Linked DNA regions of Homo sapiens: region 2 is linked to region 1. Evidence: fine-mapped expression QTL. A gene starts in region 1. The other region holds a variant in brackets. All regions are shown on one strand. Distances are between the middles of the regions. Region 1 holds the start of EMC2 (ER membrane protein complex subunit 2). Region 2 overlaps EMC2 (ER membrane protein complex subunit 2).

The links. PIP is the estimated chance that this variant, and not a neighbour inherited with it, causes the effect.
Region 2: its variant is fine-mapped to the expression of EMC2 in whole blood (INTERVAL, PIP 0.98).

What each region holds. Positions count from the first base shown.
Region 1 is chr8:108,433,222-108,448,325 of GRCh38, reverse strand. EMC2 (ER membrane protein complex subunit 2) reads right to left here and starts at 4,702. Exons shown (of 11, transcript NM_014673.5): 1 at 4,628-4,702. The coding sequence starts at 4,667. LOC105375704 (a long non-coding RNA gene) reads left to right here and starts at 4,854. Exons shown (of 3, transcript XR_928530.4): 1 at 4,854-4,956. RefSeq lists a silencer at 4,749-4,868.
Region 2 is chr8:108,467,917-108,484,263 of GRCh38, reverse strand. EMC2 (ER membrane protein complex subunit 2) reads right to left here. Exons shown (of 11, transcript NM_014673.5): 6 at 14,353-14,438; 7 at 14,143-14,202; 8 at 8,301-8,382; 9 at 7,372-7,482; 10 at 5,154-5,258. Among named protein-coding and RNA genes, the nearest start is that of EMC2, 32 kb to the right of the region's middle. The variant C/T (reference allele first, on the strand shown) is at 4,688.

The DNA of each region.
Region 1 (15,104 bases):
ACATGGACTTGATACACTTGGTTTGAATCTAAACTCCATCTTTTACATGACCTTACATAACTTACCGAATCTGTACTTAGTTTCCAATACCAATGAATAGAGATAATATTACCTTTAGCTCAGGGATGAGCAGTTAAGATTACATAAAATATATATAAAGTTGCTTGGTTCGTACAATAGTTTGGATATTTTTGTTTTTAAGTTGATTTTGATTACCCTTAGATAAGGGTATACACTTACCAGTTCTTCACAGGCACCACTATTGTCTTTCACCCAACTACATGTATTTTCATCTGCTTGGCCCTTGAGTTTAGGACACCAAACACTAGAAAATTCGTGTAAAGCATTTTATAAAATGTGAAGCCCTACAAAAATTCTAGTTACTTTTATTTTTTAAAAAAATCTGGTAACTGTTTCAGCCTCTCACAAGAAATAAAGGCTCTTCCCTCACTCTTTCCTCAAAGGTGGCTTAAAACTTTCATTTTACCCTTTCACCTTCCTGCAAAAAGCTCGCTCCTCAAAGCCAAGGTCATTTTATTACATACTATGTAAGTAAGCTTCTCACTGCTTGCTTGTACATTTTATTAACTACTGTGCAATCCTGTGAGATGAGCTAAAGGTCAAAGGTTAAGAGAGTCGCTATGATTGTTCTGTTTATTCCTTCCATGACAACTTGCATGAGATGTCACTGCAGTGAGGTGGCCTCTGAAAGATGGAAAAATATGCCTGCTACTTAATTATGATTTCTTTAGTCCAAAACTACTTCCTCCAATCCTGTATCTTTTCCACTTCATTTTTTTATATATTCGGAAATACCACTTACAGATTCATTTACATAAACCAGCATATTCTTTTAAAAGGTTGATAATTACAGGATAATAAATTTTAAATTATTCATGGTCCCATAAAAGTATCTAGTCAGATTGGCTGCAGGCTGTTGGGAACAGCTATTCTAAAAGAAAAGGCAACCTGATTTGAAAAAGGAAAGGGTTAATTTATTTTAATGCACACAGAGCTCCAGAAGACGTATTTTTCAAACTGTGTATTACAATCCATTAATAGGGTATAAAATCGGTTCAGTGGATTTCTTCCAGCATCTGTTGGGGGTGGGGGGGCAGTGGGGGAGAATGAAACAAAATGAACAGAATGGAAGCAATACTCATTAGAATCCTTTGTAAATGCAACTTTGGTTTCAGTTTATACATACACTCAAAGATTCATGTATAGGTATACTTAATTGAGTATGAGTTAATTTGTAAAAGGTGTTTCTTATTGTGAAAAAACACTCATAGGAAAGAGAACTTTTTTTAAAGCATAACTTCTAAGAACGGCAGTCTGACACACAGTCACATATTAAAATATAATAGCTGAACACAAAACAAGAAACACTGTGTATGAAAATATAACTTACAAAACAAGCAACATTTTACCTATAAACACCTTAAGCTATACACCTTACATAGCTGACCCTGCCACACTCTTGAGTGCTGCTGTAATAAATACATTTGTAGCACTATTAACCACATACTACTTTTAGAAATGCCTTAAATACATTTATCTAAAAAAATTATTTGTAAAAATAAAACCATCTTGAAGAAAACATGTTTTCACCTTTGATAGCTCATTACCTCAAAATCACAGCATCCGAAAATCAAGTCATCTTCATTTCCTAAAAATATGGCCTCCCTTCCCAATGTTCACATTTCTGTTAATTCCACCTTCTGTTAATACTACCTGACATTCCATTTTTTAGTGCTGTTTCTGACTCCCACTGTGGGAGTTTTGTATATCTAAGTCCTGTGGATTGTTTTGAAGTATTTCGAAGTATTTCGAAGATTTACATCTTCTACTCTATTTCCACTGCTATTATCCATGCCCAGGCTTTCATCACCCCATGCTAAAATTGCTAGGATAGCTTCCAAACTGATCTCTCAACCCAAATTCAATCTGTAAATTACTACCAGATATTTCTAAAGATTTACTTCATTACAATGTAAATTCTTAAGATACCCAATGATTCCTACCTTCTTTGAGGCAGTATAGTGTATGACTGGAACTATACTTCATTATTCCACTAATATTTACTTCTTGGAGTAAATATTGGAGTTCTTCATCACTCAACTAATATTTCCTAAATGCCTATGTGCCAGGCCTGATCTGGGCACTGAGGATAAAGAAAGAAAGAAAAAGATAAAGTTCCTATATACTCATAATGCTTAGAGTATAATAGGGTAAAAAGATGAAAATCCACATAACTTCAGATAGTGAAATTATACAAATAAAACTAAAAGACCATATGATAAAGTCAGGAGATTGGGAGAAAGGAGGAGCTTTTGGAAAGGGTGGTCAGAGAAGGCTTCTCTAAAAAGGTCATTTTCAAGCTAAGAGAAGAATGATACTAAAACCTGTATCTAAGATACTAAAGAAATTATTTCAACGCTAGAAAAATGGCTTATAATCTTTTCTGACAATGTGTTAGTGTTTATTATTAATCTCATTAACAATTCATTTAGTCATCAAATAATTACTGAGCTCCGCCCCCATGTGTCAGGCTCTAGGGAAGTGACAGTGAAGAAACAGGCCTGGTCCCTTTCATCTTAGGAGAGACAAAATTTTAAAACAAAACACAATTGGGTAAGTGCTTCAATAGTATTAGAATAGAATACATAATCGAAGGATTGCAGGTGTGTTTTGTTGCTTCATTTTATTGTTTGGGTTTTTTTTTTCAATTTTGGTGGGGGATGAGGAAAGGGAAGGGGGTAGTAGAGTGGTCAAGTAAGGCTTTTTTGTAGTAGGTGAGCTTTGTGGGGAATTGATAAATGATAAAGTTTAATGGGGGCAAGAGTGAGGCAAGGAGGGAAGAACACTCCCAGTGGAAGGACTAGCATGTGCCAGCTTTAAGAAGCAGCATGGCAATTTAGGGTATTCAACAAAGGCCAGCATAGGCAGCTCACAAAGTGAGAGGGAGAAGGGCTCAAGATAAAGCTGGAGACATGGGCAACCGCCAGATCATACAGAGGAAGGACATAATCATATTAGCACTAGCTAATAGTAACACATCCTTTTATATAGTACTTAACAGTTTACAAAGCACTTTAAAATGTTTTCTTTGTTCCTACAAATTTGTGTAGTAGTTATTATTTATTATTCCAAATTAATTACATCAATCCTCTTTAGAATGACCACAGGGTAAGGTCCAATTACTCAGTTAAATCACCTTGTCTGTTGGTAGTATACAGCTACTCGTCCCTCAGGATTTTATATATGCTACTATCATCTAGGAAACCTATAATGAACATACCTTCATAATAGCATTTTCTAAAAATTATGTAATATTTAAAACATTTTTTAAAAAGCATTAAAAATAACATCCATTTATCTACGACTCAGCTTACGGAAGATACCCTGACACAAGCCTTTTAAAACTGTGTGTTTACAGGTTTGTTTTCTCCATTAGATTGTGACTTCCTTGGAAGTGGGGACTGTGTGTTGACAGAGCCAAGATTTTGCAGTAAGAAATCAACACTGTTGTTTAATATAATGGAATCCCTCAATTCAGGTATAAATACTGAGATTCACAACGTGCTAGAGGCCATAAAGTCAATAAATCATTTAATTCAGTTCAAGTACAAAGAAATTTTGCTTTATTTGTAACGGATTTACAACTTTATAATAACTGATATATTTATTCACGATAAAACAGAAAATACAACTTTCGGTCCACATGTTTTCAGGTCATTATTAAAACATCCCAAGAAGGCATTCGTTAAGCAAATTAGCTACTGAAGTCTCCTGTATTATGTTAAATGCTGGGAATATGAATTCCAATTACACAAATTCCACGCCTTAATGAAACTCAAGTTTCTTAAGCACACAGAATTGATCCAAGGTTTGGCTGTTCCCAGATTTAAAGAACATATCCCACTCTAGATCAACTAAGGATAGGGAAAAGTGACCATCACACGTAAGCACTTACGTAGCCCAGAGTTAATTAGTTATTTTTCCCTTCAGAAAAGAAACTACTAGTAGGGAGTAAGAAAGAAGTTGTGTTGTGTGTGTAAATGTGTTTTGAGAAGGAGTGGGACAGAGACTAGACTAAAAGGAAAAGAAACTGGAAACCCGGGTTTAAGAAGAAAACTAAATGTAGAGTGGCATATGAGAATCACATTTGTTCACGCATCTTTTACACAGCTTTTCTGCACAGAGCTGTAATCCTTACACACCACTTAGTAAAGGGCCTTACAGGCCCTGTGTTTCTTGGCTCCAAAGAAGCTTCAGTAACCACCTATTCCGCCTCTTCCGCACCGCCCAGCAACCAGTTAGCGTGCGACAACCCCAGCCCCAAGTCCCTCCCGCCCGCCTCATAAATAAAAGCGGCCCCGGGACGCTGGACTGGCGCGGAGGAGGGCAGGTCAACCGAGGAGCAGACACCGTGGGAAACGCTGCAGAGTACGCGTCCGGGCCAAGGGAAGGGTCAGCCTCAGCCTCCACCTCAGCTTGGCCCGTACAGTGAGGGCTCTGGTACCAAAAAGACACCAGAGAACCCAGCTCCCCGAAAGCAGCGGGTACTCCCGAACGGCTTCCCAGCGCTTTTAGTCTTTCCGCACCCGCCCCCACCCGAAGTTACCTTCCCAAGTGACATCGTAAAGCTCTGAGACCTTCGCCATCTTCCCAGAACCTAGAGGCAGCGGGGTGAGAGGGCGGGGAGACGCAGTCACGTGACCCGCCACCGGGCGGTGGAGAGTTACGTAGCTTTTTCTCATTGGCCAAGAGAGCAGAGGGGGCGGTATCCGCCACGCACGTGCACGCGGCTCTGCGGAGGGGCTTTCGGGGAAGGGGGCGGAGCGAGCTGGGCGGAGCGAGCTGGACGGTGGACGGAGCTAGGTGGGCGGTGCGTGGCGCTCCCGCAATCTCAGGATACCCTGGCTGCTGGCGGGGCTACGGTGCTGGCTCGGGGTGAGGTGTGTGTGTGTGTTGACGTGGATTTTTAACAAATGCTGGGTTTTTAGTGTCCGTCAATCCTGGCTTTTCAGTTTTTTCTACCTAGGCTTGTTCATTCTCTTCACACTCCCTTAAGTACCCTTATTCTCTTCATGGCCGGCCGCAGTGCAGCCTTCTGCACGAATCCCTTATTTGTCCCCAACTTTCCTCCTTCCGTAATGGGATTTGCTTTCCGTTCACTTTTTAATCGACTAAACGGATAAACTCCAAAGTTTTGAGAGACTAAGTGGGATTCTTCCTTTGCGCTCTGAAGTTCCCTTGAATGCCCTCGCGCTAGCTTATACCCTTCATTAACGCTCGTCGTGCCTGTCATTGCTTCATCCATGTCTGCATGCCACACTAGGTTTCAAACTGTCGCGAGTATGTAAGTACTTATAAGGAATGAATGTACGAATGAGACCTTCACAGTTCCTGAACTTCGCTCCTCATTACTCCTGGGTGGATGGGGGAGCCTCCTTTCCCACCAGACTAATTGCTTTTAGGAAACTTTGGACGTCATCTCCTAGACTTAAGGAGAAATGTCTGGACAGGAAGTAAAAAATTTGAGGATGATAAGCGTATATTTAGTATTTGAAGCAATGGGGACATGAGATTGTAGAGGAAATATGTAAGCTGAGAAAAAACTAAAAATCACTGCAATGCAGCCGAAAGTTATTGGTCAGTAAAGAAGGGGCAGTTGATTTGAGAAGTAGAAATAATACTATCCCACAAGTCAAAAGAGTGGAGGGTTTTTTTTCTCAGCTTTATTGAGGTGTAATGGACAAAAATTGTGTATATTTAAGGTATACAAAGTAATGATTAGATGTAAATATACACTGTGAAATGATTACCACAAGCAAGCTAATTAACACATCTATCACCGTACATATTTCCTGTGTGTGTGTGTGTGTGTGTGTGTTGAGAACACTTAAAAATCTCTCAGCAAACTTCAAAGTATACAATACAGAATTATAACTGTAGTCACCATGCTGTACATTCGATCTCCAGAACATATTCATCTTACAACCAAAAGTTTGTACTATTTGACCAACATCTCTCCATTCCTCACCTGTCGGCTCCAGTCAACCGCAGAGGTTTTTTTGTTTGTTTGTTTAAAAAAAGGAAAAAAACCATCAAACCATAGACCCCAGAGAAGTCACTTAACAACAGAGAAGACTAGTGAATGTATATACTTGGATTCAATTCTGAATGAGCTGGCATTCTTTCTAAACAGACTTTTTAAAAATCTTTCATTCAAAAAGTTAAAAAATACTCAGAAATTCACATATTTTAATGCTCCAGTAAAGCAACCTGGTGCAATAGGAAGAACAAGAACTCCCAGATCTGAATCCAGGCTCTACCTTTCAGTAGCTGGGTGACTTTCAGCTTATTTCTCTCTAAACATCAAAAAGGCTCATATATAAAAATCTAATAATATGTGTGTAAAAAGAAAATAGCTACCTTGTGTTGTTAATCAAGATAAAAACAGATGCTGCAGCTAAAGCCCCTGCGTGGCACTCTCATGGAGGTACCATCCTATGTCTAGAAATACTGTTTATATGCTGATCAGTCCCAAACTGATAAACCTTCCCAAAACCCAGTCTGGTTGCTTGACGTACTCAGATAGCTAGCTGATACGCATCTCAAAGTTAACATATCCCACACAGAACTGCGGATTCCTGCTGTCACCTTCCGCATTCCCACCTTGTTTTTCCCTGTCATAGGTGAGGAAACCATTTACCTAATTGCACAAGTTAAAATTACAGGAAGTACCTTTGATTCCTTTTTTTGGCACCACCTCCCATATCTAGTCTATCAGCAAATTCTATATTGCACTTCCCAAAGTTCATCTACTTTTCATATCTATTGCTATTACCTTAATCTAAGCCACAACTACGTCTCTTCTGAATGATTGTGATAGTTTCCTAGCCACCTTTGTTTCATTCTTGCTGTGTAAAATCTGTTTTTTTATACAACAACCCTACTGGTCTTAAAAAAAAAATCAGACTGCAGAAGTCCCTTGGCAATAGGCCTCAAATGGCTCCCCATGGCAATAAAAATGTACTTCAAACACTTTACCATGGTTTACAAGGCTTTACTCAACCAGGTGACATTTGTCTACCTCTCCTACCTCATCTCCTACTATTCTATTTCTCCTCACTAGCCGCCAGCCATTCTCATCTACTTCCTATTCCTCAAACAGACCAAGATCCTATCTGCCTTGTATCTGGCATTTGCCCAGCTGTTTCCTTTTCCTAGAAACCATCTTCCTTTTGTCATTCATATCTCAGTTTTAAGTGTATCTACTCATAGACCTCTCTTGACCATCCAATAAAAAGTAGCCCTTAGGTAATGCCTATCCATCATAATGACACTTATCACTATTTGATTTTTTGTTTGTTTACTTGCTTACTTTCTGTATTTTACACCACTTTAAGCTGCTTCAGAGTACCAACTTTGTTATTTTAACCTTGGAACATCCAGCCTAGAAAAATACCTGGAGACAGTAAAAATGTTTATTGAATGAATGAGTCAGATTAAAAATGACAGCTTATATTAATGATTATTAAGAATAACATTTCTTAATAGTACACATATGAACTCTAGTTAAGCATAGGATGTTTTCTTTTTATAGCCGATACTTTCCTAAAAATTATAAATTCAGTGAATTCAGGGACCATACCAATTCATTTTTTTCTCTCTCAGCCCTTACTACAATATGTTGCATACAAGAGACACTTAATATTTTCATGAAATTATTGACACTTAACATTTCATTGGTTGGTTTGAGGGGTCTAAAACCTCTGGGAAAGCCCAAGGAGGTATTTTTAAAGCCTTGCAATGGATTTTAAAGGTTACAGCTAATTGAGGGAATACATATTTTCTAATCACTTCAACTAAATATCCCATAGCTAGCTACTATTGTCTGTCAAGCAATAAGCCGTATGACACTGAGTTAAAAGTCATCATTTTCAGAATTTCTAAGCTGGAAAATAGAGTAATTTCATTTTCGAGTTAGAATGGGCTGATGAATCTTGAGAATAATATTTTTCAAACCTCTTTTTCCTGCAACTCATACTAAAGGAATATGTTTTGCATTGTCACATAGTATGTGTACATGTATTTAAAACTGAGACAAAATTTAAAAACTAGCTTTGTCATGTGTCTTGTCCCCTACATTTTCTATTCAAATTCTGTCAGCTACATTTTATTTTCTAAAACTACTGGTATGACACAGAAATGAGGTCATGACTCATAGTTTAAAAAACACCAATGGATATCGTATTTCCTAACCTGAGGCCCTAAAGTGAAATGATTTGCCCAAGTTTCTGCCACTAGCAGGTAACAAAGATAGGTGATTCATATGGAGATCCGTTGTTTAGATCGTAGATGAAAGATAAAATATTAATGAGAAAAATATATTTAGGAGAAATTTTGTCACCAACAGTACTCTGAAGTGGGGAAAATGATTGCTTATAGATTATAACATTTTGCATGTCTAATAAAACTTGCCTTCCTCAGGCACACTTAGGAAAAAACTGGTATGTCAGTGACAAGAATTCTATATTCTTTAACATTGTATAACATGTAATTATAACTAAATAAAAAAACCTTCTATAAATAAAACTGTAACACTGAAAACATAAACATCAATTTTACCTTCTGTAACTCCTCCTTTACAAGACGTCTTCAAAGTTTTGCCTCTCCCTCTCTCACTCATTGGGAAAATTTTCATTCACATGTGTTTAAAATATTTAGTCCAGTTTTTCTGATTGAACATTGCCCAATATTGGTGACAAATACCAAGGAAATGTCCAGGCAGCCAAATATTAGATTATACTAGTACCCACATTATGAATAAGATGTGTCAGACACCACGGGAAGCATTATCTCACTTAATGATATCAACAGCACAATGAAAATGTCTATAATTTTTTTTATGTGAAGCTAAATTGTGATTTGGTTTTTTTCCTGGAAGATTATGTTTGAAGAGTTGGAATGACAATAAATCGGAATGAACTAGATTGATACAGGAAAAACTTCGAATAAGCCCACATTTTCTTTGAGGTAGGATATAAGCCAAATTAGTCCACAGAGCACTTTAGAGTACATCTTTTTTATGGTTTACTTAAATCAATTATTATCTTCAGACATTGTGAAGGACTAAAGCAACCTCTTAAATTTAATAAATTTTATGGCATTTATACAATGTACATTATTTCACAGGATATAAGCCAAATTAGTCCACAGAGAACTTTAGAGTACTTTTTTTTATGGTTCACTTAATTCAATTAATATCTTCAGACATTGTGAAGGACTAAAGCAACCTCTTAAATTTAATAAACTTTATGGCATTTATACAATGTACATTGTTTCACAGGATGGAACATAATACTATTCTAGTTGATTTTGCAATATTCGGCATCTTCATCAAACCATTTACTTAGAATCTTCTGTCTGCTTTGTCCTGGTCTTAGTCATAGTGAATTAGTGTCCCATGTTATGTAACACAGCTTGTAACTCCTATTTACTATGACAGTTGCCCATCAGAGTAAGTTGGTCTCACTACAACTCTCCTATAAAATTTACCAAAGCTTTTAAATTATGTCATTGTTTCTAATTAGTGGATCATAACCATAATCCCTTTTTATTTAAGTGGAAATATTATTCATTCCGTGCCACCAGAAAATAACCTTCATTCCATGTCACCAGACCTTCACTGTGACGCATCTTGTTCAGAATGAAATTTTTCTTAGAATTTTATTTACCAAAAACCAGATTAATATGGAATTGTTTTACGAATCTACTGAACATTGTTTTTATTACATTTTTAAAAGACTGTATAATTAATATGCTTCCCCCAAAATCAGTACCCAGTCCCCCCTTTGCTGGCACAACTGTAGCATTTAGGCATGTCTATTTTTTTTAAAGTTTGTTGTCATTTGTAATATATATGTTTTTAAATGTGCCAGCCATCATTTCATACCCAGTTATATTATTTTAGAAAGGAAAGGGGAGTCTCTGGGAAACATTTCCAGTGAGATTGCTTTGGTCCTTTCACAGTATATTTCGCAAACTGATAATTACCCCTCTGTGCCGTGGCTGTAGCACTGAAAAGGAAAGTACATCCAGAAAGAGTACACCCAGAATTACCCCACATGGGCTATAAATTAGAGCTGTTTCTTTTTGAGATTTATAACCATACTTAAGAGTCTACTTTTTCAAGTGATATGTATTTAATTTCCCCGAAGTGCATATTCTGTTCTGATAGACACATACATCTGTGTAAATGTAACTCCTTGTGCAAAAATGTATTTTCATAAACATCTCTTTTGGTTACCAAATATCCAGGAGTCCCTAAATACTCTTAATGTGACCTGATAGTCCCTGAAGACCATCTAGACTCTACTTTCTACAGTAGGACTATAACTGAATCCTTTACTTGAAAAAAATGTTCAAAAAGGTGTTTATTTACAATAAATAAATTATGGGAAACTCATGCAAAGATATACTGAATGTCACGTTATGCATGTTAGTCTATTATTGATGTAATTTTTATTTTTGAATAGTCCCTCTCTTTGGTAGTTTGGTAGCATTACTCTAGTTACAAGTGGCTAAGTCATTTGTTCAGACATGTAGTTCTCAGCTATCTTACTCCGGTCACCAGACCAGAATGTCATTTTCTTTACTGGTCATCTTTTTCTGTGGTCATGCTGACTACTCGGCTAAAATTGGCTTAAAGGCCAACAGCCACATTGAGCATAATGTGGTCATTTTCTCTTTGAGATCATAAATCACACTCTCTTTTGTACCTAAGAGGGCCTATTTGGTCAGCACCATGGTTTTATTTGGAAAAAAGACTAGTTTCCCAGCAGAATGTCTAACAAAACTGCCCACCCCCAAATCCATTCTATTAGACCTATGCATCACCATCTCACTCCTGAGAAAATAGCATGATCTCTATTTTTCAAAATTTTATGTAACATAATTTTTTTAAATTTTATTAAAGTTGTTTATCTCAAAACTTTGAAGTAAGGAACAATATAGACATGCTTCAAAAGCCGCCACTTAAATTGCTGCCACCTCTCTAGAAATTATTTCAGCAATGGAATATTTTAATTTCCTTCTGTTCATTATGTTTCTATTACACATTTATTTTGGATCTTTAAATAATGAATTTGAACATGTGTCCAGTGGGGATAGAGGTATGATGGGGGGTGATTTCAGTTGATAAAATTTTTCTAGCAATATGCAAGATTATTTTAAGTAGAACCTCAATCGAGTTATTAGAAAACATCAGACAAACCCAATTTGAGAGCCATTCTACAAAAATAACTGACTGGTACTCATCATGGGGTAGCAGTGCCATTCTATATTCCTCTTCTAAGTTTTAGACAAGTGCTTAGTCCTAAGCACCCGTTGATGGATTCTAAGGTCATATATTTGATGAAATTAGAAGAATAGACTTAAATTTATGAAAGAATCTCCAAAATAGTTTGTGTTAATTACATTGTACATACCCTGCCAGAGAGGGTGTGGAGCACCTTTACATTCTAGGTGACAGCAATGGATTCTTTGCCTACATACATGTACATTCCTCTCATCTATGGAGATTAATGGGTTTTAATCTCAGGTTACACATTCTAGCAATGTACATTAAGTAACTTGAGCAAACTGACTTCACTGAATGCTAGTTTCCTGTGTAAAACAAGCATAATACTTGCCAATTATAAAAAGGATTACAAGTAACAAACACAAAATTTCTCGGAGTCTGGCATAATAATATTTTCAATTTACATATCAGTTATTGAGTACTTAATGTATACCAGGAACTGTACAAACTGCTCTTTCTAGATTATTTTGTTTAATTCTTAAACAACCCCACTTTACAGATGAGGGAACAGTTAGGAGAGGTTAAATAATATTCCCAAATACCTTGTGATATATTCTGTTGCATTGTAGGTTCTTAGTAAACAGTAGCTGTGTCGTTTTGGTCCATTGGGAAGCAGACTTTGAGATGGAGTTAGAAATGCAAGAAATTTATTGGGAGCGCTCTATATGAAATAGAAAGAGGAAGCAAAATTGGTTATAGAGAACTTTTACACCATGGCACATATATAATGCCTGTGTAAGACAAGTGGGTAGGAAGAAAGATTGGGCAGGAAGAGCCATAGACCATGATTTAGACCTGACAAAGTATCAGCCAACTCAATGAGAAGTTTCTGAGCAAAGATTGCCCATTAGAAGAGACCCACAATGGGCAGAAATTGCCAGGCCTTGTGTAGTGACATGCTCATTTATTGGCTGGGGAATACCCAGAAGGGCATGGCCTCCGCTCAAAAGCTGAGATTAATCCTGAAGGCTTTAATAGCTGGAGGCTGTCAACTTCCTGCACTACTTCAGCAAGTTCTTTTTTGAAGGGAGATTCAAACAGTATACTTCATGGCTGCCACAGTAGCCATTATTATTATCTTTCCGTTCTAGGGGTGCACTACCTCAACACTATTAGGTAAAAAATTGTTGATGAGAGGTAGGGGTCTGTGTTCTTCAGAAGTCACTGGTGATTTGACATATGGAAATTACCCATTTTGACTGCACAGAATGTCTTTTTCTAGTATATAATAAATAGGCCAGCAATGGTTGCCTTGTGTTGAAGAAAAGACTTGGTAGAATACATATAATCCACAGAGGCTTGTTTTTATGAAATATAAATCAAAAATCATTCATTCTTCTTATGGGTGGAGACTACTACTACTACCATTGGTAAATTACCTAGAACTTCATATTTCTTCCTCCTTTTTTACCCAGATGCCAAATATATCCAAGTAATTTAGAATTTTAGAAATGTCTTTCCAAGAATAACAGTATAACTCTGAAAAATGGCAGCATTTCTAAAATTCTAGAACTCAAGCTCTCCCTGAAATACTAGAAAATTCCAAAGACACTGCAATCAGAATGCCCCTAGATAATTCAGTGGCTAGCTGCCATACTATCATTGATGGTTGCTTGTTAATAAACTTAAGCAAGACTAAATTTTATCAGTATTTTCCAACAGTAGATAATTGATTACAGGTGTGAAATATGAATGCTGCGTAAATATGCAGCCCCTCAATGTCATCTTGCTGTTCTCTTGGATGCCAAGGCAGCCTTAGTTAGCATCTGCTGTGCTGCACAGATGCTCTTCTGGGAAGGTAATTAATAGTAGTCTGTACTCTGGACTGCCAGAAGGAATGATATAATGAAATCAGTACCTAATGGGGGGAGGCAGAGTGCTTCCTAGACTTCACATGACTAGTAAAGTTGAGTTTCAAAGAGAAGGACTGTCTCTTTTTAAAATTTTTAGCAACAGAAGAGGGCTGCTGATTGTCTCTTTTAAAGAATTAAAGCAACAGAAGAAAACTTTGGCAGTTCTTTTCAGGGAGCAGTTACATGGGACACAGTAGTTATGAATCTCAGTACACAAACTCAGGTGTGCAAGAACAAAATTTGCACTTTTATAAAACAGTTTGTTTTCAACTTCTGTTTTAGAATCGGGGGTGCACGTGCAGGTTTGTTACATAGGTTTGAAGTACAAATGAATCCAGCCACGACGTAGTAAGCATAGTACCCAACAGGTAGTTTGAGGTTTTTGGGGGTTTTTTTGTTTTGTTTTGTTTTTTAATTTTTTTTTAAGACAGGTTCTCACTCTGTCACACAGGCTAGAGTGCAGTGGCATGATCAAGACTCACTGCAGCCTCGAACTCCCAGAGTTGGGCTCAAGCGACCTACCTGCCTTATACCCCCCACCCCACCAGTAGCTGCTACTACAGGTGGATGCCACCATGCCAGCTAATTTTTTGTATTTTTTGTAGAGACAGGTTTTCACTGTGTTGCCCAGGCTGGTCTCAAACTCCTGGACTCAAGAAATCCGCCTGCCTCAGCTTCCCAAAGTGCTGGGATTATAGATGTGAACCACTGCACCCGGCCCAATAGGTAGTTTTTGTTTGTTTGTTTGTTTGTTTGTTTGTTTCAACACTTACCTCCCTCCCTCCCTGTACCCTTTTGTATTCCCCAGTGTCTGCTCCCATTTTTATTACCACATATACCCAATGTTTAGTTTCTGCTAATGAGAACGTACAGAATTTGGTTTTCTGTTTCTGCATTAGTTTGTTTAGGATGAGGTTTCCAGCTTCATCCATGTCACTGCAAAGGACATGCTTTTATCCATTTTTATGGCTGTGTACTATTCCATGGTATATATGTACCACATTTTCTTTATCCAGTCCACCGTTGTTGGGTACCTGTGTTGATTCCATGTCTTTGCTATTGCGAATGGTGTTGCAATGAACATAGGGGTGCAGGTATGTTTTTGGTAAAATGGTTTATTTTCCTTTGAGTATATACCCAGTAGTGGGATCTCCAAACTGCTCTCCATAGTGGCTGAATTAATTTACATTCCCAGTAATGGTGTATAAGTGTTCCCTTTTCTCCACAGCCTTGTCAACAACTGTTTTTTTGTTTTTTGTTTTTACTTTTTAACAAAAGCCATTCTGACTGGTGAAAGATGGTATCTCTTTGGTTTTGATTTGCATTTCTCTAATGATTGGTAATGATGAACATTTTTTCATGTTTGTTGGCTGCTTGTATGTCTTCTTTTGAGGAGTGTCTGTTCATCTCCTTTGCCCACTTTTTAATGGGGTTGTTTTTTGCTTGTTCAACTGTTTAAGTTCCTTATAGATTCTGAATATTAGACCTTTGTCAGATGTATGCTTTGTAAATATTTTCTCACATTCTTTTGGTTGTCTGTAAAGCTCAATTTTTATTTGAGGTACCATTCTTTGGGGAAGACAAAAATTTAATCTCAGCTTGAGGTTTGCCTCATCCTGCTGCCTCCACCTCTTTCCAGGCTACTCTGACTCATGTGTGAAAGTGATATTCAAAATATTTAACAAGCTGTAGGCAAGGTCGCCAACTGTCGTAGAAGCCTTCAAGATGGTTCCCAGTAATTTGCACCTTCTGGTTAGTACCCCCTATGTAATCTCTCCTACACTGAATAGGAACGGCCTGTGTTATCAATAGAATATTTTTCAGAAATGATGGAGTATAACTTTCTGAGGCTAGGTCATAAAAGACATGTGGCTTCT
Region 2 (16,347 bases), 35 kb before region 1:
CATGATTTAATTTTCTGTTTCCCAAAAGGATAGTAACAGAATCACTGCTGCAATCATAAATATCATATAAATCACTAGCACAGATTTACCAGTGCAACAAAGAAGGATTTATCTGGAAAATCATTGTGAGTAGGTTCACATTAAAGTTTTTCATGTGCATTAATCAAATGTGTCTGCTTCTACTGAACATGCTAAACCAATTACCTAATTGACGAGCAAATAGTAGCCATATTCTGTTTCATCATTAAGTGGAAACAAAGAAAGAAAAGCAGTTCTTGAAACCTAATTTTCCCTAATTTATAAATACGTAGAAAAATCCCATACGAAATATTATATACTCTATACCGGTTTATATTCCTAGATATGATTAAGAAATTCTCACTGAGATCCCAAAGATTTACCTAGTTATCAAGAATGTCATTCTCTGAAAGTTATATACTCTTTTACATTATTCACAAATACTGTATTTTTGTTTTCATACAGTTAGATTTTGCTTAAGTAAATCTTTCATAATTCTCTGTAAGATCTATAAGAAAACTCACCAGAAAAAAACACAAAAACAACCAAACAATAAAAACTTGCTTATCAAATTCAGAGGTCAGTGATTCATGCATTGTAATAACTGAGATACCTTGCTTGGGCTTAAATTTACCTTTACATAATTTGTGGAAAATACATGGGTAGACAAAGTAATAGGAAAAATGAAATGGACTGTAAATGAATGAATCTCAAAAACATGCTGAGTGAAAGAAGCCAGACACAGAAGAGCACATAACCTATGAACTCATTTATACAAAGTTATAGCACAAGCAAAACTAATGTTTGGTGATAAAAATCAGATCAGTGCTTGTCTGTCTCCCAGTGGGGGATGAGGTTGACTGCAAAATGGCAGAAGGAAAGTTTCTTGGGTGATGGAAATGCTATTTTGAGTGGGGGGCTGGTAAGGGGATGTACACATTTGTCAAAACTCAGACTGTATACTTAAAATATATGCACTTGATTACATGTAAATTATATCTCAATATACCTCAAGGGGGTCTTGTCACACTGAAGAGACAGGGAAAAGGAAAAACATAATAACTTATGTTTTAATTTCTTTAATTCTCAGAATATTTCATTATGGCCATCTTGCAGAAGAAAAGATACAGCAAGAGATGTTAGGTAATTTATCCAAGTTTGCATAGCTAATAATTATATCAGAGTCAAAATTTGAACCCAGACAACATGGGTTCAAATCTGTAATCTTCTCTTTACTACATTGAACTAGCTTCCATGGACGGGACTCATGATGGAACACAAAGATGGACAGAAACACTGGATATCCATATGGGGAGCAATGGACCCCCTATTTCACATCATACATAAAAATCAATTCCAGGCCAGATGCGGTGGCTCACACCTATAATCCTAGCACTCCATTGGGAGGCTGAGACAGGAGGATTACTTGAGGCCAGGAGTTTGAGACCAGCCTGTGCAATACAGCTGGACCTCATCTCTACAAAAAATTTAAAAGTTAGCCGAGCACGGTGACATGCGTCTACAGTACCAGCTAGTTGGGAGGCTGAGGCAGGAGGATAACTCAACCTGGGTGGTTGAGGGTGTAGTGAGCCATGATCATGCCACTGCACTCCAGCCTGGGCAACAGAACCAACCAGATTCTGTCTTAAAAAAATAAAAATTAAAAATTAAAAATAAATCAATTCCAAATGGGTTGTGGATTAAATACGAAAAGTAAAAGAATAGAAATTCTGAAGACACACAGAATTCTTTATGACCGTGAGTAGCAAAAGATTTCTTAAACAGAACACAAAAAACACAAACAAATGACTGAGGCATTCGAACACATTTCATTTCAGAACTTCTATTCATCAAGATCATATGAGCAAAAAAGTAAGAAGTTATACATATTTGCTTATACATATAACTAAAAAAGGGCTCATAAGCAAAAAACTAAAGAAATAAGTCATGCAAACCAATGAGAAAAACATTTCACGAAAGAGGACATCCAAATGGCAACTGATCATCAGGGACATGCAAAATAAAACCATGAAGTACCACTCTACACATGTACCAGAATGGCTGTAATTACAAAGACTGACAGAACCATGTGTTGGTGAAGATGTGGGGCTATTAGAACTCTTACCGCTGGTGGGAGTAAACTAATTTGGAAAATTGCCTTTAACTACTAAAGTTAAATATACATACATTCTATGACCCATATTTTCACTCAAAGGTATACAGAACTGCACATATATTCCACCAAAAGACCTGTACAGCAATATTCAGTATAGTTTATTCAAAATAGCCCAAACAGAAAATATTCCAAATGCATAGCAATAACTAAATTATAACATTCATACAATGAACTACAGAAGAAAATGAATGAACTACAGACACAAACAAGGATAAATCCCATAAACTGAATAATGATAGAAATATGCAAGACAAAAATGAATACATACTGGCTGATTCCATAAACTATAGGGTTATAAGTGAGTACTCTTAAGGAATACAAAAGGAGAAATTAAGAGGACTTACCAAGAGAGCTTTGGGATGCTGCAATGTTTATATTTATTAGCCTGGATACATTTACCTTATATTAGTCACTGAAAGGCACATTTATGACTTGCATCCTTTTTTCTGTTATAATTCTTATTTCTATGTTATTAATTTAGTAAAAATTGATTTTAAAATAGTTATGTCAAAAAAGCACTCTGAGTAGCTGTTTCTCATATCTTAAAAACAATTATGTAGTATGCATAACGTTACTTTTATATTACACAAATCTTTTTTTTTAATATTACATAAATCACACACACCCACACACCCCCAAGCCTACTCTGTGTGGAACTCCATTACAGATCTGAGCTATCCCAAACTGCATTTGAAGAAGCACAGTCTCACTAATATTTATAAATACTCTGACTTAGAATATGCCAACAAAACTAACATGCTCTATAACAGACAATAAAAATACACAAAGGTGACTTTCAATGATGTGATTATGGAGGCACTACATTTGTAAAATCTTCTCAATTTTCTCCAACCAGAAGGGCAAAAACGAACAACAAAAAGCCAGCACCAAAACCAACATAACAGAACCCACGCCCACAGGTGACATTTTCAAAAAAACTAGGTAACAGTCAATTTTCCAAACCCTAGAATGTGACTATGTCATCAAGAGCAGCATGACCAACAAAAGATTAACAACTGTGTGGTAGGAGGAATAGAAAGTAATAGAGGACAACCTACTACTCTACAAGAAACCAAAAACCAAACAAATTATGAATTCTTAATCCACTAAACAAGAAAACCTGAGATGATGCAGCTGCCAATGGCCTAGAAGTCTTCATAAGCTCCAAAACAAAGATAAATGTAAAAAACTGCTCATAAATGTGAGATTAGACAAGTCTAACCGTCTAATATCTTAAAATTTCTAAAATATCTAGCAAACATCCTCTTCCAGAAGGACAAAACCTCACACCCTGAAGAAAAACAATTAAAAACTGAAACCAAACTGAACAGGGCAGAAACACCAGGGCAAGAAGGAGAGATGGTTCAGACAAGGAGGGGTGAGGAAAGGAGTGATGCCCAGAGGCAGCAATCCCAGAAGAAAACAAAACAAAAAGGAAGAAACACAAACTGTAACAACAATATGTAACATTTAAAGTGAGAGCAACACCTCAGAATTCAAGACTTTGAGGGCTCTAGAAACAGAACAGAGGGCTGAAGCCAGAAAATCTTTCTGAGTCACACTGAGTTCTAAGACAGACTGGCCATTCATACTCAGTTCTAAGAAAGACCGGCTATACAAAGAGGTCATATTTGAATTCTCTTTAGCAAAAAAGGAGACGGCCATAGAATAGCCAAGCTGGGAAAGCTACCCTAACCTATCTCCAACTCCCTGCCATTCCATAAACATTGTCTCCTAATAGTCCAGGAAAACTACCTCATTTAAACATGGAGGAAAGAAAAATATGAATCAAATTCATATTTTTATAAAATACAGAAAATGACAAAATAATTTGAAAGAAAATGAATAAAGGACATAGAAAAATGAAGTCTAATACACGTATTACTGAAACCCTGAAAAAGAAAACTAAGCAGAGAAAAAAATATTTGTAATTCTAAAAGCAACTTTTCTCAAATAAAAGGGCTAAACTGATGTACTAAATGGGTGTACTGTGTATTTGGGAAAACTGACCCAAGAATAATCAATAAAACAAATCATAGTAAGACTACTGGATTTTAAAGATAAAGAAAAAATTCCTTTGCGTAACCAGACAAGTCACTTATGATAAAAAGTAAGTCAAGACGGCATCATATTTCCTGACGGCAACATTTTATTCTGAAACAGAATGAAATAGCTGGGCATGGTGATGCCTGCACCTGAAGTCCCAGCTACTTAGGAGGCTGAGGTAAGAGGATCACATGAAGCCAGGAGTTCATGGCCAGCCTGGGCAATATAGCAAGATCTCGTCTATATTAAAAACAAAACAAAACTGAACAGTATGCTTAAGATACTTAGGTAAAGTATTAACGGGTATATAAAAAGCCAAATTGTCCTTTAAATATAAAGGCTATAGACAAATAAGGCTAAAGACATAAAAAGATGTGTTTTCCCATGAGCAAATTTCTAACGAAAAATAATTTCCTAAAAAATCTGCTAAGGACGAACTTTAGAAAA[C/T]TAAGATACAAATGGAGAAGTTTCAGTAAAGGATCTGAAGTGTAAGCAGACTGCACAAACTTTGTTATGCAGTTTGATTAGTTTAAGGCTTTCTTCCTTCTTTTCTATTTCTTGAGATACCTATGATTAATAATACACTCACATACCCAATCTGCTTCTGAAATGTGACGTGATATTTATTTATCCTTTCTGAGTTTTTAGAATTACTTTGCGTTTGCCAAATGCAGAACCACTGAGATTTCCATATGGTAAGGCTAATTATGAAATAATAATACTAACAGATTCCTCTTGAGGGGAAAAAAAGGTAATCTTAAAACTACAAATTAATTCAAAACACAACACATTTGATAAAGCCCCAAAGGCATATATAAGTCCAATGCTAGACATACGACTTTGTAGTTTGTAGTAACAAAACTAAGAAATACATTAACTGACCTACATAGCAAAATGATCAATAAATACTAACCTGATAAGCTCTGTTTATTTGACTAGCTGCCCAACTAGCATATTTCATGTTGTCCTTTTTCGTTTTTGCACTTGCTTTTGGATTAGAAGCAATATGACTTGCCGACTAAAAACAAATAAAAACATCAAAAGCAAAATTCCTTTTTTGCTAGTCAAGATAATCAAAAACATAAGGGACATGGTTGCAATGGGATAATAAAGAATTTTTAAAAACTGTATTAAAATAATTTTTAATATAAACATAAAGTTGAATATTAGTGCTTAAAAATGAAAATATATTTTAAAATATAGTATAAATCCAAAATAGTGGAAAGGGAAAAGATATTTTAAATAATACCTAAAATTATTTAATTATGTACCTGTAACAGCTCTTAAAGGTAAAATTCCATATCATTTAAATAAAGAAGCTCTAGAAGAACACTTTATAAACCAAAAGCACTTTACCACTGTAGGATATTACTGGTGTTATTTCTTATTACTGAATTACATAACTTGCTATGTCAGAATCATAGAATTATTGAATATTTATAGAAAAAGGAAACTCAAAAATAATTTAGCCTGACATCCTACATTAATAGGTTAAAGAAATTTAAGTCCAATAAGAGAGATTTAACTTGACCAAAGCAAAATAATGGGTCTTCGAAATAAAGAAGATCCTTATCTCTAATCCATTTCTCTTTTCACTATACCATGAGTTTTCAAACTGTGTTTCAGAGAACTAATTAGTCCCTGCAATTTGATCCACCCTCTCCTTTTTAAAAATGTATTTAAATGAGCGGTTCTTAATCTGGGATCTGTGAAAGAATCCATAAAACCCCAAAATCATATGCTAATTATTAAATGTATATATTACTGTGAAGAGTAAGATATAACTTGATTCCTATTCTTAAATATATTTTACTCTTAAAAGAATATGACCATGTGATTCAAAAAAAGGTTAAGCCTTTGTTTTATGCCAGCCTGTGCTATAGGCTCTTTCACCTATGTCTCCCTCTCTGCCAGTGAAGAATCTATATCCCCAAATCTGATTTTTATACCTCTATGACTTTAATGTTACCTTCTTCTTATGAATTTTAGCAGATGCAGTGGTTACGAGAAAAACTCTGGAGTTAACTTCCTGGGCTGGAAACCCAACTCGATCATTTAGGAGCTCTGTGCCCATCTTTGGGCAAATTAATTAAATCTGTGTCTCAGTTTCACCACCTGAGGATAGTATTGAGAGCACCTACTCAAACAGTTGATGTGCGGATTTATTGATTTAAAATAAAAAACAGAGCTCAGAACAATGCCCAGCACATGAAGTGCCATGTATAAGCTATTATTAATTTGTTGTATATTAGTTTTTAAAATTAGTATTTATTTGATACAGAGATACTTCTACTATAGCGTATTTTCAAGCCATTGCAATTGGCTTTGCTAAAATCCAGGAAAATTTTCTTGAAATTCATTTGAACCACCTTCTAACCATATTTTGCCATTCCTTTTTAAAAATTGTTTCATTTTTGTTTCTTCCTATTTCCATTTCTTCACTCAGTTCCTTTTCACTGAGCTGCAACAAGAAGACACTCATCAAGAAGTCAAAGGAACAGGATAAATAAAATATTAAAGTTTATTTCTCCCAGCGTTTCTTATTGTAGGGAGGTGCTCACTTTATATATATGTTTTAAAGGTCAGCAGATTATTCCTCTATTTCCCACAGCTCTTATTAATTGACTTTTCTAAGCTCAGCATTTGGCATACCTAAACAATAGGTCATTACATACTTCCCACAATTTCCAAACTGTTTTTCTACACCATAAAAAATGTTTTAATTTGATGTATTAGGGATTTGATTTCTAATGTATTTTATTGGCACTGTTTAAAAATACCTCATACAACTATAATTTAGGGAAGAAATACAATAATGTTGGGCATAAACCCAAGAATATCAAAACAAGAAATCATGTTTTCTTCCTATCTGTCACTATTTAATTTTATAAGGGCAGATTTCAATTCTGATATAAAAGATAGTTTACAAAAAAAGAATGTCAAACAGCTAGGCTGTGTTAACATTCAAAAAGAAAACTGGCTCACAAGCTATTGCTCAGAATTAATTACAGAAAAAAACATGCTTATCAATAAAATACAAAAAACAGGAGAGGAGTGATTGAAGGGGATAGTTAAATGGATTTTAAGTGACAGATTTTTAAAAATAACATTAAACATGCACCTCAACTCACCATATAAAGTCCAAACAAAGCTCTCATATTTCTGTTGTTCAGTTTCAATGCCTGTGCAAAATACTTTCTTGAAAGTTCGAGGTTTTCAAGTCCACCTTGGGTATACTTAACCTGTTAAAAATTGCAAAGTGCTGAAAACTGTTTATTTTACTACTTTGAAATATAGCATGGTTTCATCATACCATAGGCATTCAGTAATCGAAACAGATATTCTCTGTAAACAAATACAAGATGTTAAAAGAATTCACCTAAAGGTTTTTAAAGCTAATCTAAAATTTCAAACATAACCTTCCCCAAAAAAGCTATTCTATTCTATGAACATTGAGATGACTGAGTAGTTTCTAAAACAAAAATGCTGCCGCAATAAAAAGCCAGAATAATTTCTATTTCAGCTGCCTCGCAAATGCTTCACCTCACATTGTATTTTCTATTACTGGCATTATAAATGTGGACTTAAATATTGAATTGTCCTTTTATAATCTGCATGGACATTCTTTAATAATGAAGTCCTTCTAGCCTTATAGCATTCAGTTGTACTGCTATTCTTAATAATATGCAAATTAAATAAATACTTATGTCCCAATTGGCTTTAATACAAATTTCCCAGAATATGGATTTAACAATCATAATCACTATAAATGTCTCACAAGCCATTAAGTGGTGACAAATGTGATATAACTTATAATTAGGAAAGAAAATAGTATACAAATATAAAAATACAAGGAATTTCACTGTTTTAAGTATGTCTTAAGTCAGTATTACCACTGCAATGTTAAAAATTTTAAACTTTTATTCCCACAATTCAATGCTCATCAGATGTTTTAAATATTTATATACTTGCTTAACATCAAGGAAATATTCTTAGTTCCATAATAACACCGAATAGTAACCAAAATAAAATTATATGCCATTGTTCTGAAAACACTTACTTCAGCATACTGCTGACAGTATAAGTGGTTGTGTGGATTAGTCATCATTAGTTCCTCTAAACAAAAGGCTGCTTTTGCATAGCTAAAAACACATCAAGAGGAGAAATTAATTTTTAAAGTCACAAATTTTTATCTTAGTTAAACCTTGAAATAATTTAAAAACAACTTTAGTCATGTTAAACAATTTATTCCCAATATAATTTACATAGCTTTATTAATAAAGTATTTGTCATCTGAAATTCATAAATATCAATGACATTAAATTTTATCATGAAATTAATAAACACAGGCTTAAATCTTAAAGCAGCCTGCAAACAATCAATAGATACTACATTTCAAAAACTGGGTCACTCCTACTACATCCCATCACTACTAATAAGAAGGGCTTCAAGACCTTGGATCAAGCTGTATATAAAACAACTTCTGGAAGTTGACTGATCATTTAAAAAAATATTCAAACAGCTAATGTGTAAGGAGAAAATAAACATTTTATTAAATATTCTCTACTCACTAAAAATTCTTCACAGGCATATATTTACCAACATATTCTATTACAAAGATTTCTCTCATTACTTAAGTTCACTGTCAAATACCAAATTATAATGAAGTTATAAATTTCTAAGCCCATGAAAAACAGATCAAGTTGGTTTTGATATATACTGTACTATTATTTAATCTTGTGGTAGAATAAACAAAAATCTTGCTGAAAACCTAAGGAAAGAGAACTGCCAGAAAGAGCTCTGGAAAAACATTTTAAAGCATGTGACTGTAATTCACTAAATATATTTTAAACGTTTAATGCCATGTGACTATCCTCACTATCTACAGGAAATTCTAATGAACACAGGTGTTACAAGATTTCTTCCCAGTGAGGAAGTGATGACACTACCCAACAAAAAGAGGCTACCTAAAGTTATTTTTGGCATTTACCAGTATACAAAGGGATCTACCTTTACACTACTGCCTGATATACTTTTAAAAATTATTTTCCTGTTTCACACATGTATACTAATAATAGCTTTTACTAAATGCTTATTACGTGTCATGCATTGTTCTAAATGTGTTACATGTATTAACTCATTTAATCCTACCAAAACCCTAGGAAGAAGGAAATTATTATCAACATGCTAGAGCTGAGAATACTGAGGCACAGAGATGTAAACTGAATCCCAGGCTGTGCCACTCCAGACAGCCTGTACTCTTCAACCACTACATATGCTGCTTATATGCATTACACATCACATTGAAAAACTGAAGATGTCAATGGTAACATGAAAATGTGTACAGCAGTCACACCCAAAGGGACTGAGGAAAAAAAATACACCCTGCAGATTACCTAATAATTACAGCATTTTAGATTTATGAAGGACCACATATATATATGTATGTGTGTGTGTGTGTGTGTGTGTACTCTCATCCAAGATCATGCAGCTATTTAGCCCTTTCCATTTTTAAATTCAAAACCTAGCATTGGTTCTTGACACATGATAGGTATTTAATAAGACTGAACAAATGATTGAATAAATGTCTAAAACAAATGTGTTATGACTACCTACCTAATATATATTTATCACTCGAAAAGAAAAGGGAAAATTTGTCTCTACCTTAAACACTTTATCAAAAGACAGTTCTCTTCTAAATGTGTTCCTTTAATTATTAATAGTATGATGCCAAAAATTCATATTGAGACTAAGAATAAAAGTTCTTAGACATTTAAATGGGTTGAGCACAACTGTGACACTGGTGCATAAAGCAAGATAAAATGGGCAGGTAGTAGCAGCTCTTAGGGTAAAATGAATACCAAGATATTTTCTCAAAAATCAATTAGCATCACATATGAGAAAAGGACTCCTTCCCCCAATTTTATAAAGTACAGTATCAAACTAATTTTGTGGATAAAATATAGAATTAAATAAAATTAGAGCTAGAAGGAGCTCAACAGATGGTCTAGTCCAGCTTTTCTAGGCCATTGTTAGGCCACGCAGAAAGTGACTATTTCCTCAGTCTTGTCAGGGATAATACATAGCCAGTACTATTCTAGGTGCATAGAGAAGTTAATTCATTACACACAGTGACTCAACAAGACTAAGAATAGAGAAGTAAAAATAATTTGAATCTACTTAAAACAGAATAACAATTGTTATTACAATATTAGAGTCAGTACTAGAACTAAATAAAGTTTTCTTCTCTTCCTTACAAAAGTATATATAACTAAAGGTTACAGTATTTGGTACTGTGTGTTACTTTACCAACATCACAATTTTTCCTTAAAGAATTGTGGTAATTCCGTTGATATGGAATTTTAAAAGGCTGGACTTATGAAAAGGAACTATAATCACAATCATAATTAATGTATAATACTAACTGTTCCTTGCTGTATAGTATCTAGTTTCAATAACAAATGAAGTAAAAAAATTTGTCTTTCATAATGTGAATGTATTTTTGCTTACAAAGGTTGGGTATCCCTTAACCAAAATGCTTGGGACCAGAAATGTTTCAGATTTCAGAAGTTTTCAGATTTTAAAATATCTGCATTCTTACTGGTTGAACATCCCTAACGCAAAAATCCCAAATCCAAAATGCTCCAATGAGCATTTCCTTTGAGCATCATGTTGGCACTCAAAGTTTCAGATTTTGGAGTATTGTGGATTTCAGATTTTCAGGTTATGGATACTTAACCTATAATACATATTGGTAGTGCTGACACAAAAAAATTAACTGTAGTTTTAAAACTTTAGAACAAGTGTCTCAATATGGTCAATGGATGTAACATATATCCCTGGAATAACTAAAAACAAACTATAAATCAGAAACAAACTTATAAAAGTAACTTAAAAATATAAAAAGGTTACATGGCACAATTCTATATCCCTTTTTCTCTCTATAGAAACATTAAATAGGGCTATATGAAAATTATACTATAGATATTTATTTGGAGTTTAAAAATTCCAGAGCTGGGCACAGTGACACACCTGTAGTGCCAGCTACACAAAAGGCTGAGGTGGGAAGAGTACTTTAGCCCAGGAGCTCAAGTCTAGCCTGGGAAATGTTGTAGACTCTGTCTCTTAAAGAAAAAAAATAGTTCTAGATATAGGCTACCAAAGCTGCCTGCGACCTATTATACTTAAAAAAGCTTACAACTGTTCATATGCAGAAAGGAATATCGAATGTTAAATATATCTGACATTTTCGAAACTGCTACGTTTTTGCCACTGTGTCCCCAAGACTGGTGCTAAAACTGATATCCTACGATAATTTAACATTCCATCAAAAAATTCCTGCCTCCTATAATGACTTGCTCAAACATGTCAAATGAATCAAGTGAACTGATTGTAATTTTCACAGTTTCAAAAAAACCTGTAGATATGCATTTCCAGTCACCTAAACATAAATATTCCTTCTAAGTGTTCAATTAGAAAAAAAAAATGGTCATTTTGTAACTAACTAGCTTTAAGACCAAAAAGAGTTTTGTGATACTAGATAAAAGGGTAGGCTGACCATAATTATCATTTTCTCTAAAAAAATATTTTTAGGTGCTCCTACATCTTTGTAAATCTTCATTTTTTGAGATTTCTCAGTTCATTTCTCTTAAGTGTACATTCACCTCTGTTTCAATAAACTCTTTAGATTCCAAACAAAGCAAAACTGAAGGTGGTACCACATGGTGAAAAAAATAAGTAAATTTAATGGTAGGTTAAAAATAAGGTATAACCTAAATTTGATGATGAAATAAATATTAGAAATACATGCAAAAAAATAAAATTGCAAATGAAGTAGGGGGAAAAGGTGATATATTTTTAAGCTATTAAAGGACAGCAGACATGATAATGTTAAAAATTGATGAATCTGATTTTCTAAAAATGTAAAGTTTCTATAATTTTAAGAAGTCAGTATTTAAAAAGCATATAACAAGGATATACTTTTGACAAATGGTTGCTCTCCTTTATAAAAAGAGCTCGTAAAAATGAACTAAAAAGGTAGAACCAATTTCACCTATCAAACTTGTAAAGATTAAAAAAGAATCATAGTATCCAGTGTTGTTAAAGAGGGACTCTAGTAAATGCTGGTGTGCAAGTAAATTGATGTTACCATTCTAGGGAACAATCAGGAACTATTTATCAAAACCACAGAAAATGTACATCTTATTTAATCAAGCAATTTTACTTCAAAGAATTTAACCCAAGGAAACAAAATAAAAATGATCACTACAGCATTATATATAAAAATATAAAACAACCTTTATATCTCCCTAGGAAACTCGTTAAAAATACTAGGGTAAATTAGTAAGATGAAATAATATAAAGCCATTCAAAACACACTGTAGATTGTTACAGTGACAAGAAATTTTTGAACAAAATATAACTAAGGGAAAGTATAAACTACGGAAGATAATTTTATTTTGGGCTTTTATTTTAAAAGATAAGGAAGGACAAAAACCAAACAAACTATAGTTAACTTAGGATGCTGGAATTACATGTAATTTTTGTCTTGGTCTTTATGCTTTACTGTGTTTCTCAAATTTTCTGCATTAGGTATTCCTTTAACTTGAAAAAAAAAATTTCCTTGTTGATTTGAAATGTTTTAAAATGCTTTTAGTCAGAAAATCTTTAGAAAGTACAAAAAATGTTAAATGACTGTCACCTGTTTTAGAAACAAAATAAAATTAATGCTAATTATTTTTACTATACTCTAAAAATTCAATTTCATGTATTTAAATATAAGTATTATATACTGTTTCACATGTGTAAGAAATCATGAGTATGTTTACATATGTGTACATACAAGCATATCATCTATACTGAATGTGATTCAGGAAATAATTTCCTAATCAAAACCAGAATATCTGTTTCAGAGTATAGCAGAGAACTTGAAAAACAGTTCCTAGAATATAGTATACATTCATTAAATTACAGCTATTACTTTTATTTTAGCTCCCACTTTCCTTAGACTTATGCAAATAGACTACCTCAATCCTCTAGATCACATTATATATATAGACCACAGACAATAGACAAATGTCTTCATTCTGTTTCTCATCAGTTGTTTGTAGTATGAGAACAAGGTTAAATATTCATGCACAAGAAAATGCGCATGAGAATCTGATTCTATTCTGTCAAAAAGAAGGAAAAGAAACAATGTCATATACTTCAGATTTAGAAGAACTAAGAAAAAAAATAAAAAACACGCCTCTAGATGGAGGTTAGCATTAATGCTGTAATATTAGAAAACTTGCACTAAGACTCTGGACTAATCCTCTCACACTGGGATTTCCTCCTGTCACTACAGCAATAAAAAAGCTAACAAAAACATTAAACATCCAATAAGCAAGATCCTAGAGCATTCAACATTCTTGATTATTCTCAGTTTTTTACCCAGGCAACAGAATGCTTCTACTTTGGAAGAGTTGATTCTCTTAGTACTAAGGCTAATACATGCATACAATTGACAGAATTTTTAAACAGCAGGGAGTATAATACTCTTTGTATATAAGAACAATCTGAACTCTAAAAATTCACAATTTTGATTTACCAAAAATAAACTTAGCTTAGCAAATGCAGGCCTTTTTATTTCCAAAGAATGCCATCTATATTTGAAAGAAAAACTTATTTCCTAAACATAAACAATTTGGCAAAACACAAATGACCTAGTTAAAGCTATTCACTTATTATGACCAGTGAATTACTGATTTGTTCTTTTTCATTTAATTGTTGATTTGTTCTGTTTCTCATTTCAAATGACATGATTCACACCCTCTCACCAATCCTTTGGAAACCACAGTGCTTTCTGAACTTACAGTGATGAAAACTGCACTCAACAAAATGTTGTGTGTTTAATAACTTACTCATGTTCATTGATGTAAAGTTCTGCAAGTTCATGCCAGGCTTCTTGGTCTCCAACAAATCTGGTGAGAGGAAAAGAAAAAAAAGTAAGTGTGTAGATATTCTGTAAATGAACAGCATGAAAACAAACAGGAAAATCAAATGCAAATTCCATTTTAATTAAAAAAGATTTATCAGAATAACAAAACACAATCCTCTTGTAAAATACTCACTGTTCCAGATACTCATTCAGCTCCCGAATGGCCTCCACATTTTTCCCCTGGGCTTTTCGAATGGCAATCTTACGCTTTCTTGCAGCCTGTGGGTTGACATTAATAAAGGATTAGGCCCTTATGATTCCTTGGGGTTTTGTAAAGAAGGTAATTTGACTGTGCAAATTATTATCTCAATGCCAGAGAAATTCCATTGTAGAACTACTGCTTAGTGGGAGTTTATAAACATACCCCATGACATCCCACTGGGGAATTCAAACATTCCTCTAACAATCACATATGCTTTACTTTTGATGCACACAATGTATGCATCGTTTCATCCAAATAAATAATCATCCAGATTCTGATAATTATTAACCAGCAGGGAATCTTAATCTTTATCCAACTTAAAGCCCTTTACTCTGTCTCATTCATAAGATCTGTATCCTAAGAGGGGGAGGAACAGTGGAGATTAGGGGAAAAAAAATCTCACCATGGCATGGCCTTTGAATATCATTATATAAATATGTCTTCTGACAACTTTTTCACAATTTTAAGAGAAAATCTACCTATGAGTCTTTCACAAGAATAATACAGTCCTGAAATAAATATTGTATGATAAGCAAAACAATTAGAAGCTGTATTCTAAAGTTTTTAAAATGATAAACATAAAAATCAATGCCATTTATTGTGCATTCATCAAATATGTACCAGACTTCTACTGTTTGCCAATATTGTGCTACACAATGAAAATATAAAGATAAAAAAGAAATGATAATTCCTTGCAGAAGCTCATTCTCATGACAAAAACGTATCAAATAAAAAAGTTAATGCAGTAAGAGCAATGACAGGGATATCTAGGGTGTTATGAAAATAAGGAAGAGATTCTGACACATGCTGTGTCAGAGTGGACGAACTGGAAAGACAGAAAGCAAAGACGGTCCCACATATGATACGTGTACTGAAACAAAGAGTAAGTAGACATTAAAAAACAAAACAGGAAGTTATTTATGGAAACTGCATAGTGGGAAGAACACATGAGCAAAGGCCTAGGAGAAAGCAGTACTGGCTGAAGTAAACAGTCAGGGACTGGAGCATACTGTATAAATTATTAAATTTACGTCCTCTCTATTTATGTTTGCTTCAAATACAGAAGGATAAACAATAAACCATACTATAACTGAGGCCAAGCTAAACTTATTAATTATGAATAAAATTTCTTATTGTTGATATAATATTCCACAAGATGCAGACAGAAGTAAAATGGATGTGGTCTCTTTACAGTATCAAGAGCTACTCATTACGGGGTGGTAAGAGAGTGATTTGGCTCTGAAGAAATGAAAGTGAAAGTTTAGAGAAATCAAGAGACTAATAAATAAGGGTCAGAGCAATGTTTATAATATTTTGGGTAATTAAAAAATGATGTTTTAATAATATATATCCTTAAGCATATCCTGAGAGTAAAAAAAATAAAAAATAAAAAAAGAATCTATATCCTTAATTAATCAGGTCATGGCAAAGGCCTTTAGCACAATGCCTGTCACATAGTAGGCACAAGCAAATATTTTTAAAATAAGTTTACTAAGTAAAACAAAAATGTGCCACAATAAATGCAAAGTTTTAAAAGTCTCAAGAACTCAGAAGAAAAGTAAAAGTAAAGCTCTGAAAGTAACTCAAACCCTAAAGCCATTAAGAATTTTAGACTTAAAATGGGAGCATTGTCCCTAGTCCTCCAAATAGATGAGGGATAAATTAACATATAATCAGGAAACTTTCGGCCATTTAATATCTGATTTCACCAAAATCTGAAACATAATTTAATCTTTCATTTTTCATGACATTACTTCTTCCATAGACAATATACAGAGCATAATGTCTGTTTTGAAATCCAAAAGACAAGAAACTGAATCCCAACTCTTATCACTTACTAGTTTTAACCTCTACAAACCTCAGTAATACCATCTATCTTCAAGCATCAATATAAAGCAACTAACACAGCATATAATAATATTAAAT